Regions from separate parts of the Homo sapiens genome. Here region 2 is linked to region 1. Evidence: fine-mapped expression QTL. A gene starts in region 1. The other region holds a variant in brackets. All regions are shown on one strand. Distances are from middle to middle.

Region 1 (4,381 bases):
GGACAGCTCAGCTGGGGACACGGGAGTCCCCTGACCTTTGTCGGGGGGCAGGCTTGGGCTCGGCGATCACAAGGAAGAGGCCAAGGCCGCCAGTGCAGAGGGGAAGGAAAGAGCGCGGCAGCCTTAGGGATTTTTAGATGGGCAGCAGATGCCTTTAGGGTGAGAGATGTACGAAGAGAGGACACTTGTGCCCCCCCCATCATCTGAGAAAAACAACAGCCAGATGTTGCCTTGCGAGGTCCACCTTGCCCAGAGCTCCCTCGGGGACTCTGTCCTGGTGGCAGGGTTTTGGTACCCTGGCCCAGAAGGCCCCTCCTCATCTCTTCAAGGGGAGGGGACGCTTCTGGACGGAGCCTTGGTGCTCCCTGGCCGGGTGTGCCTAAGGGGGCTCTAGGAGGAATCCCAGAGCCAAGCATTACTCAGAGGGCGCCTGGAATGTTCCCCTGGAATGCTCCCAGCCCTCCACTGGCCCCAACCACTCTCACAGGCCCGCCCTGCAGGAGCCAGGCCCCAGGCACCCAGAGCCTGCAGCAGCCCTCCTTCCCCCGGTACCCAGTCCCAGCTCCCAGAACAGACAGCCTCCCCCCTCCACGCAGCCCTGGCCTCAGTCCTGCTGGGCTGATGGCTGCCTGTGGAAGTGACTCAGCTCCTGCTAGGCCACCCCAACTCCTTTTTTCTCCTCCACCTTCTCTCCCAGACTACAAACATCAAAGACCCTTCCTCCAAGAAGCCCTCCTTGATTGGATGAGTGAATTGCCATCAGGCAGATGAGGGCCGAGAGGAGTCTGCCACCTTGGAAAGGAGGCTAGAGGGGCCAGTGCAGGGAGGGCTCTGAGTGGATGTGGGGGAGGGGAAGGAGGGGAGGTCTCTCAGCCCAGAGAGCACTTAACTGAGAGTAGAGAACCAAGCTTTGCTGCTCCTAGGCCTCTAAGGGTTTGGGGAAGAGGTAGGGTGGGCCCGGGCACAGGTGTGGTGTGGGTGCAGTGTGGTGTGTGGGTGCTGTCCACATGGCCTTGCGCGCACGTGCTGGCCACGGGCACCCTGACCCCAATGAGGGAGAGAGGGGCAGAGCTGGAGCTGGAGCTGGAGCTCCGGTGACCGGGTGAATGGGGGTGGAACCCGAGGGAGCCAGGCTGGTATTGGGCACATAGACGCCCCTCTCCCAGGGGTCCCATCACCTCCCCTGACCCCAGGATAGGGCTCAGAGGGGAGGGAGCAGTGGACCGCCTGGGGCCCTCCCCTGGGGCCAGAACAGACCAGGCCCCTGTACCTGTTTGGTCCCCACACAGTGCTGTGGAAGCCACCGCCCAGTCTGCATAGCACAGCCCAGCCCCGCATGCCCCCTCCCTGGTTGCCCTCCCTGTTCCCGGCCAGGCACTTGCTGTGCAGGACTGGCTAATCCTCCCACCCGCTTGCAGAGGTTGTTCCAGCCCCATCTTAACATCTTTGTTTGGAGGGGTTACCCCGAGGAGACAGCTGCAGTCTTCCCAGAGCACTGCTAAACAGACACCTTCTATCTGGAGAGGCCCTTCTCTATCTCACCAAACAAGGCAACAATATAAACAACATACACACTGCCCTGCTGCCCTGGGAGGAGGGACGAGGGGTGAGCAGGGTGGAGGCCACAGCTAGTTCTGCAGCCTGAGAGCAAAGCAGGGACTCTGGGGGACTCTTGGGCATGGGGGCTTCCTAGAGGACGGAGCCCCGCTGAGTCCTAAGGGGTGGAGGAGCAGGAGCGGGTCACACGGTGGCCTGCGGATGGAAGCTGGTTGTGAGAGCGAGAATCCAGGAAGAGGGGGCTACGGCTATGGGCTGGGGGCTGGGCTGCCCCCGAGGGGGAGGGAGCCATGCCCTCTGCTTTGCCAGCGGAGTGGCAGCCGGGCAGTGTGGGCAAGTCCGGGCCCGGGGCCAGCCCAAGCACACTTGAGCGTCCCTGGGCAGGTCCCACGGAGACCCCCCCAAAGAGTCCCCACGCCCTGACCTACTGGCCGTATGGTGCCGGGGCCGTGAGACCCTCCGCGCGCTGACCCGAGCTCTGAGCAGAACCCATCCCCGCCACCACCACCGCGCCTAGCCTGCCCCTCAGGGCGCACCCCGCCCGCGTCCTCACCTTGAAGCACCCCGGCGCCTGGCACTGGCCAGAGCAGCAGCAGTAGTAGCAGCAGCAGCAACGGGGTCCCCCGAGCTCTCCGGGGCCTCCAGCCCATAGCTGTGAGCTCCTCGGCCTCTAGGCAGCGGCTCGCAACTCCGGCTCCGCCCAGGCTGGATTGCGGCCGACCCGTGCCCGGTGCAGCCTCAGGCCGCCGCCTTCGGACCTTCCCGCCCCCACCTCCCACCGCCCGCCCTCGCTCCCGCCTCCCCTCCCCGCCAACCCCGCTCGGAGCCTGGCCAGGGGCCCCGACGGCGCGCGCCATGGGGGAGCCGGGTCGCCACTCCCGGACCGCCGCCCCTCGAGGGGGTGGAGCTGGGCGGAGGAGGGAATCCGTGCGGCCCCTCGGATGACCGGCCCGAGCCGTCCCTCCCCGTCGGTCTCAGAGGGCCTCTACTCCTGAGAGGAGGAGAGAACCGCTGGGAAGGTTCTTGGAGGACCGCGGCGTGGTGGGATGAGGCGGTGGGCAAAGGCCGCCTCTCGCTGCTGAAGTTGGCCCCAGGAGCGCGATCTTCCGTGGTCTCCTGGGGCCGATCTCTGTCCCCTCCTTGCTACCCGTCCTGCCCCGAGGGTGCCCTGGCGGAGGTTGAGTCGGGTCATCCACCTGCACTGGGTGCCCCCAAGGATAGGAAGGTTCAGGCAACCGGCTGCCGCTGTCTTGGGGGCTTCATTGCTGGGCAAAGGCGATGCAGCAGACGGAGACAACCTTTCTTCCCTGGCGGTGGCCAGAGGGCAGAATTGCATAAAAGCTGCAGACTCCCAGGCCTGGGAGACCCTTTCGGCCTCAGTAACATCTGTTTCATGTTTTAAACTTTTGTTTTCCTACTCGGTGCAAATTTGGATGAGATGTTAACTTTTTTTTTTTTTTTTTTTTTGAGATGGAGTCTCCCTCTGTCGCCAGGCTGGAGTGCAGCGGCGCGATCTTGGCTCACTGCAACCTCCGACTCCCTGGTTCAAGCGATTCTCCTGCCTCAGCCTCCCGAGTAGCTGGGACTACAGGCGCGCGCTACCACCCCCAGCTAACTTTTGTATTTTTAGCAGAGACGAGGTTTCACCATTTTGGCCAGGATGGTCTCAATCTCCTGATCTCGTGATCCACCCGCCTCGGCCTCTCAAAGCGCTGGGATTACAGGCATGAGCCACCGCGCCCGGCCGGAGATGTTAACTTTTAAGCAAATCTTTTTTTTTTTTTTTTTTTTTTGAGACAGAGTTTCTCTCTTGTTACCCAGACTGGAGTGCAATGGCATGATCTGGGCTCACTGCAACCTCTGCCTCCCAGATTCAAGTGATTCTTCTGCCTCAGCCTCCCGAGTAGCTGGGATTACAGGCATTCGCCACCACGCCTGGCTAATTTTGTATTTTTAGTAGAGATGGGGTTTCTCCATGTTGGTCAGGCTGGTCTCGAACTCCCGACCTCAGGTGATCTGCCCGCCTCGGCCTCCCAAAGCGCTGGAATTACAGGCGTGAGACACCGCACCCAGCCTACTTTTAAGTAAATCTATTTGTTTTTGAGAATTTGGAATGTAGTAATTTGGTTAGTGAAAGTTCGAGCAGTGAGAGAAACCTACATTCACATATCTCAAAATCAAAAAGTACAGAAAGCATAGGGAAAAGTCTCCGTGCTCTTAGCCCTCCTCACCAACAGGAAACCAATATGATTAGTTTCTTTCATAGGCTTTTAGATTATTTTTTCACACTCAAGACAATACAGACATATTTTTTTCTCTTATTAACGTTTTTCTGCACTTTGATTTTCTTTTTTTTTTTTTTGGTCGCTTAATACACCTTAGATATCAGTGCGTTTAGAGGGTCCTTGTTGTTCTTATGATTATTATTTAGAGACAGGGTCTCACTCTGTCACCCACGCTAGAGGACAGTGGCCTGATCATGCCTCATTGCAGCCTTGAAATCCTGGGCTCAAGGTATCCTCCCACCTCAGCCTCCTGAGTAGCTGGAACTACAGGCACACGGCACCAGGCCCAGCTAAAATTTTTAATTTTTCTGTAGACAGGGGGGTCTCACTTTGTTTCCCAGGCTGGTCTCAAACTCCTGGTCTTGGCCAGGCGCAGTGTCTCATGCCTGTAATCCCAGCACTTTGGGAGGCCGAGGCGGGCAGATCACTGGAGGTCAGGAGTTCAAGACCAGTCTGGCCAACATGGTGAAACCCCATCTCTACTAAAAATACAAAAATTAGCCGGGCATGGTGGTGAGTGCCTGTAGTTCCAGCTACTT
Region 2 (4,381 bases), 21 kb after region 1:
CAGGGTAGGTGCAAAAGGAATGATGTGACCTGTTGTGTTTCCCTTTTTCCCTTGACTTCCAGGAAGCTCTGCCGTTGGGTCACTGCACAGCCCCTGTCTTTTATGTGGCGTAGCCAGTTAGCTCAGTCCTGCGGTTGAGTCCACTAGACTTCTAGAAGGAACAGACTGGAGCAGGCTCCTCCTCAGGCTCCCTCCACTCTCCCTGGCTGCCAGTGCCCATCTTACCATTGGCATGGAAGTCCAGGGTGGAGGTTGCATTTCCAAGGGAGTTGGTGGCTGAGCACTTGTACTCCCCACTGTCAGTTTCCTCCAGGTCTCGGATCTCCAGGCGCAGGGAGTTGGGACCAGAGGTACCACTGAAGCGTGGGCTGTGATCACTGTCCCCGGAGGTGGAGGCCAGGATATGACCCCCATGTGACAGCACCAGTGTGGCCAGGGGCTCACTGACCACAGAGCAGTGAAGGATGCCCACAAGTCCCGCCTGGGTCTCCAGGAAGGCTGTCAGGACTGGAGTGAGAGGCGGGTCTGTGTGGAGACGAGAGGTGGGCCTGTCACCCTCAGACAAGGGCATTCCCTGGATACCCTGATACAACCCGTGACCTCTGCACCGCTTTGTCCCACACTGCCCTGTGAGAAGGGGGTGATCCCAAAGTGCCTGAGTGCCTGCTGAATACACTTTTGTCCTTGGCTGGGCTGGGTACGTCACTCTGTTGTCCCAGTCAGTGTTCAAGGCCACCCTGCAAGTGGGGATAAAAGCCCCACTTCAAAGATGAGAAAACTAATAGAGAGACCTGGTGAGGGACAGCACCTCAGCCAGGTGACCAAAGTGAGCATCATCAGCAATGGGACAAGCTGACACAGAGTGCCTCCTGACAGGGCAGAGCAGCATGTCCGCGGCCTTCCCACCCAGAGGGCATGGTCTCAGGCCATTCAAGTCAGGCAAATGTGGAGTGAGGGACCTCCTCAGAACAGCAGGCCTGCACTCTGCAAGTTTCAATGTCAAGAATGACAAGGAAAGACTGAGGAACAGTCTCAGACTAACGGAGAATGAAGAGACGCAACGACCCAATGCAATATGTGAACTGTGATTGTATTCTGGACCAGAAAAAAAATGGCTACAAAAGACAGTATTAGGTCCACTGGTAAAATGTGAATATAGATTATAGCTTAGATAACAGTCTTCTATCAGCCAGGTGTAGTGGCTCATACCTGTAATCCCAGTACTTTGGGAGGCCGAGGTAGGTGGATCACGTGAGGTCAGGAGTTCAAGACCATCCTGGCCAACATGGTGAAACCCTGTCTCTACAAAAACACAAAAATTAGCCAGGCAGGATGGTGGGTGCCTGTAATCCCAGCTACTCAGGAGGCTGAGGCAGGAGGAGAATCGCTTGAGCCCCAGAGGCGGACATTGCAGTGAGCCAAGATAGCACCATTGCACTCCAGCCTGGGCAACACAGTGAGACTCCATCTCAAAAAAAAAAAAAAGTCTTCTATCAATGCTAATTTTCCTGATCATGATCATTGCATTGTGGATATGTAAGAGAATGATCTTAGGAATTTAGCGGTAAAGAAGCCTCATGTCTGCAACTTCAGGAATATAAATATGTAGGTAGATACATAAATAACATATGCATATGTATATAGAGTGTCCATATATGTATAAGTGCACATGTCCACATAGAGTGGATGTGCATACACACAAGTGCACCTGTATATATGCAAGTCTATATCCATACATTTATATGTATGTATGTGCGTGTGTGTGTCTGTGTAGACAGCGAGAAAGATTAAGCAAATGTGCCAAAATGTTAATAAATGGGAAATCTAGGTTAAAGGTATATAATCATTATTTGTCTTTCTCTGCAACTTTTCATAAGTTTAAACTTCCAAATATAAAATAGGAGGGAACTAGGGAGGTCAAAGCATTGCCCAGGTGTGCAGAGCTGGGACATGAGCTCAAGGCCACCTCCAGGTAAGTGGCCTTGAAGTTCCCATGCCCAGGACCCCAACCCTTCCTTGGGGCTCCACCATCTGGTCCTGCTCTGACTGTGTCCAGTGCCACCCCACCCTGGCCTCTTACGGTTGACTACCACGCTGACAGGGCCCGAGCGCTCGCTGCCATGGACGTTCTGCACCTCACAGAAGTAGAAGCCAGTATCAGCCCTAGTGGCCAAGTGCAGCCGGAGGGTATGGGAGTGGGCATCCTCCAGCAGGACATGGTTCTTGTACCAGCTGTAGCGGAGATCACTGGGTGCCTC[A/G]TTGGGTGTGTTGCAGACTAGTGTCACTGTCTGGTTCTCCAGGATGGGACCTGCTGGGCTCACCTGGACCTCAGCCACTGCAAGGGCAGCATAGGGAGTGCTGGGGGGTCCCAGCCAACTTCCAGCCCCAGCCCCATACAGTCCCCGGGTCTCAGCCAATCAGCCTCAATCTCTGCACATCCTACACCACCCGCCTGCTGCTACAGGGGAGCCTCCTGGAGTGCTCTGCATCTCTTTGTCCTGCTCACCAGGATCCCCCTGACACCCCACCCTTCGTGGGGGTATTGTCACCTGTCTCATGGTAAGGCAGGGCTGGGACTCCACACCTGCATCCAGGAAGCACTGGGTTATGCCAGTTGCTGGCCCTGCCCTGCCCTGTCTCCCCTCCGTCCCTGAGGCCTGAGCTCCTCCCTATTCTCTGGCCAATACGCAACCTTCCCAAGAACTCACTGAAGATGTGGAGGCTGATGGGGGGTGAGACCAAAGAGCCCACGCCGTTCTCAGCTTGGCAGGTGTAGACGCCAGCATCGCTCCAGGCTGCCTGGGGCAGGTGCAGCACACCAGTCTTGGTTTGGAGGCGTACCCCATCCTTGAGCCACTTAATGGAACTGACTGCAGGGTAGCTGCTGTTCACCTGGCAGGTGAGTGTGACCAGCTCACCTGGAAGGATGTTCCTCCCCGAGGGGCTGAGGAGGATCTTCACACCCTTGGGGGCATCTGCAAGTCACAGTAGGGGGTATTGGGTAAGGTGCTTGGGGAGGGCAGAGGATGGCACACTTCTTCTTGCCCCCCTTTAAAAGCTCAGTCCTAAGGAAGTATGCCCAGATAAAACAGCAGTCCCCTTCAATCCTCACCCAGGGCATGCTCTGTCTGCCCATGTCCGTCCCTTTCCCGCCCCCTGCGCCTGATGCATTCCTATGCCCATTGAGAGCTGATCATGTGACGCTTGGCCAGCGTCCAGCCTACCCCACCAGCTGTAGTTTTCTGCTTCCCAATGCTGTCCATTGCTCCTGCTCTATTTGGGATGAGCTCCACACACAGGGTCATGGGTACCCCACTGCTAGCTTTAGTGGCCTGTGGAAGCTATTGGTAAGGGACCAACTACCTAGTGGGAGGGGGCCAAAGGCAGCATCAAACTAGCTCTGAAAATAGTTACCCAGTTTGTAAGCAAGAGGCCAACAACACAAAGAACTGCATTTCCTTAAATCTTGTTCCAAAGCCTCTCTCTGTGTATTCAAGTGTTTTATTCTTATTTTTTTAGAAAGAGGATCTGGCTCAGTCAGCCAAGCTGGAGTGCAGAGGCACAATCATAGCTCACTGCAGCCTGAAACTCCTGGGCTCAAGTGATCCTCCTGCCTCAGCCTCCCGAGGAACTGGGACTACAGGTGCAAGCCACCACATCCAGCTAATTTTTGTTTTTTAATTTTTTTGTAGAGACAGGGTCTCACTATGTTGCCCAGGCTGGTCTCGAACTCCTTGCCTCAAGCAATTCTCCTGCCTTGGCCTCCCAAAGCACTGGGGTTACAGGTGTGAGCCACTGTATCCGGCCTCAAGTGTTTAATATGTGCCAGGCACTCTTCTAAATCCTTGACCTGGGTCATCTCCTTTATTTGTTTTTGTTGTTGTTGTTGTTTTTTGTTTGAGACACAGTCTCACTCTGTCACCCAGGCTGGAGTGCAGTGGCACAATCACAACTCAATACAACTCCACCCCCGGGGTTCAAGCAATCCTAGTGCCTCAGCCTCCTTAGTAACTGGGATTACAGGCATATGCCACCACACCCGGCTAATTTTTGTATTTTTAGTAGAGACGAGGTTTCACCATGTTGGCCAAGCTGGTCTTGAATCCCTGGCCTCAAGTGATCCACCCGCCTCAGCCTCCCAAAGTGATGGGATTACAGGCATAAGCCACCGCGCCCGGCCCATCTCCTTTAATTTTTATCATAAATCTGTGAGACAGGAACCATCTATTGTTATCTTCGTCATAGACTGAGAAAACAGAGCCAGGCAGGAAAGGGATAAATCCCACCTCCCCAGCATCCTCCAGCACGGGGTAAATCCCGGGGCACTTGCTGCCAACCCTGAAGCTGCATGGGAGCTCCTGTTCCCCAACCCTTTGTGTCT

Evidence for each region. PIP is the estimated chance that this variant, and not a neighbour inherited with it, causes the effect.
Region 2: its variant is the best candidate, but not a certain one, in a credible set for the expression of ADAM33 in breast (GTEx, PIP 0.81).

Annotation. Positions count from the first base shown.
Region 1 is chr20:3,679,798-3,684,178 of GRCh38, forward strand. It overlaps ADAM33 (ADAM metallopeptidase domain 33), which reads right to left and starts at 2,213. Exons shown (of 22, transcript NM_025220.5): 1 at 2,111-2,213. The coding sequence starts at 2,207. RefSeq lists an enhancer at 1,638-2,531.
Region 2 is chr20:3,701,117-3,705,497 of GRCh38, forward strand. SIGLEC1 (sialic acid binding Ig like lectin 1) reads right to left here. Exons shown (of 22, transcript NM_023068.4): 5 at 2,709-2,975; 6 at 2,081-2,335; 7 at 226-525. Among named protein-coding and RNA genes, the nearest start is that of SIGLEC1, 9.3 kb to the right of the region's middle. RefSeq lists an enhancer at 526-820. The variant A/G (reference allele first, on the strand shown) is at 2,259.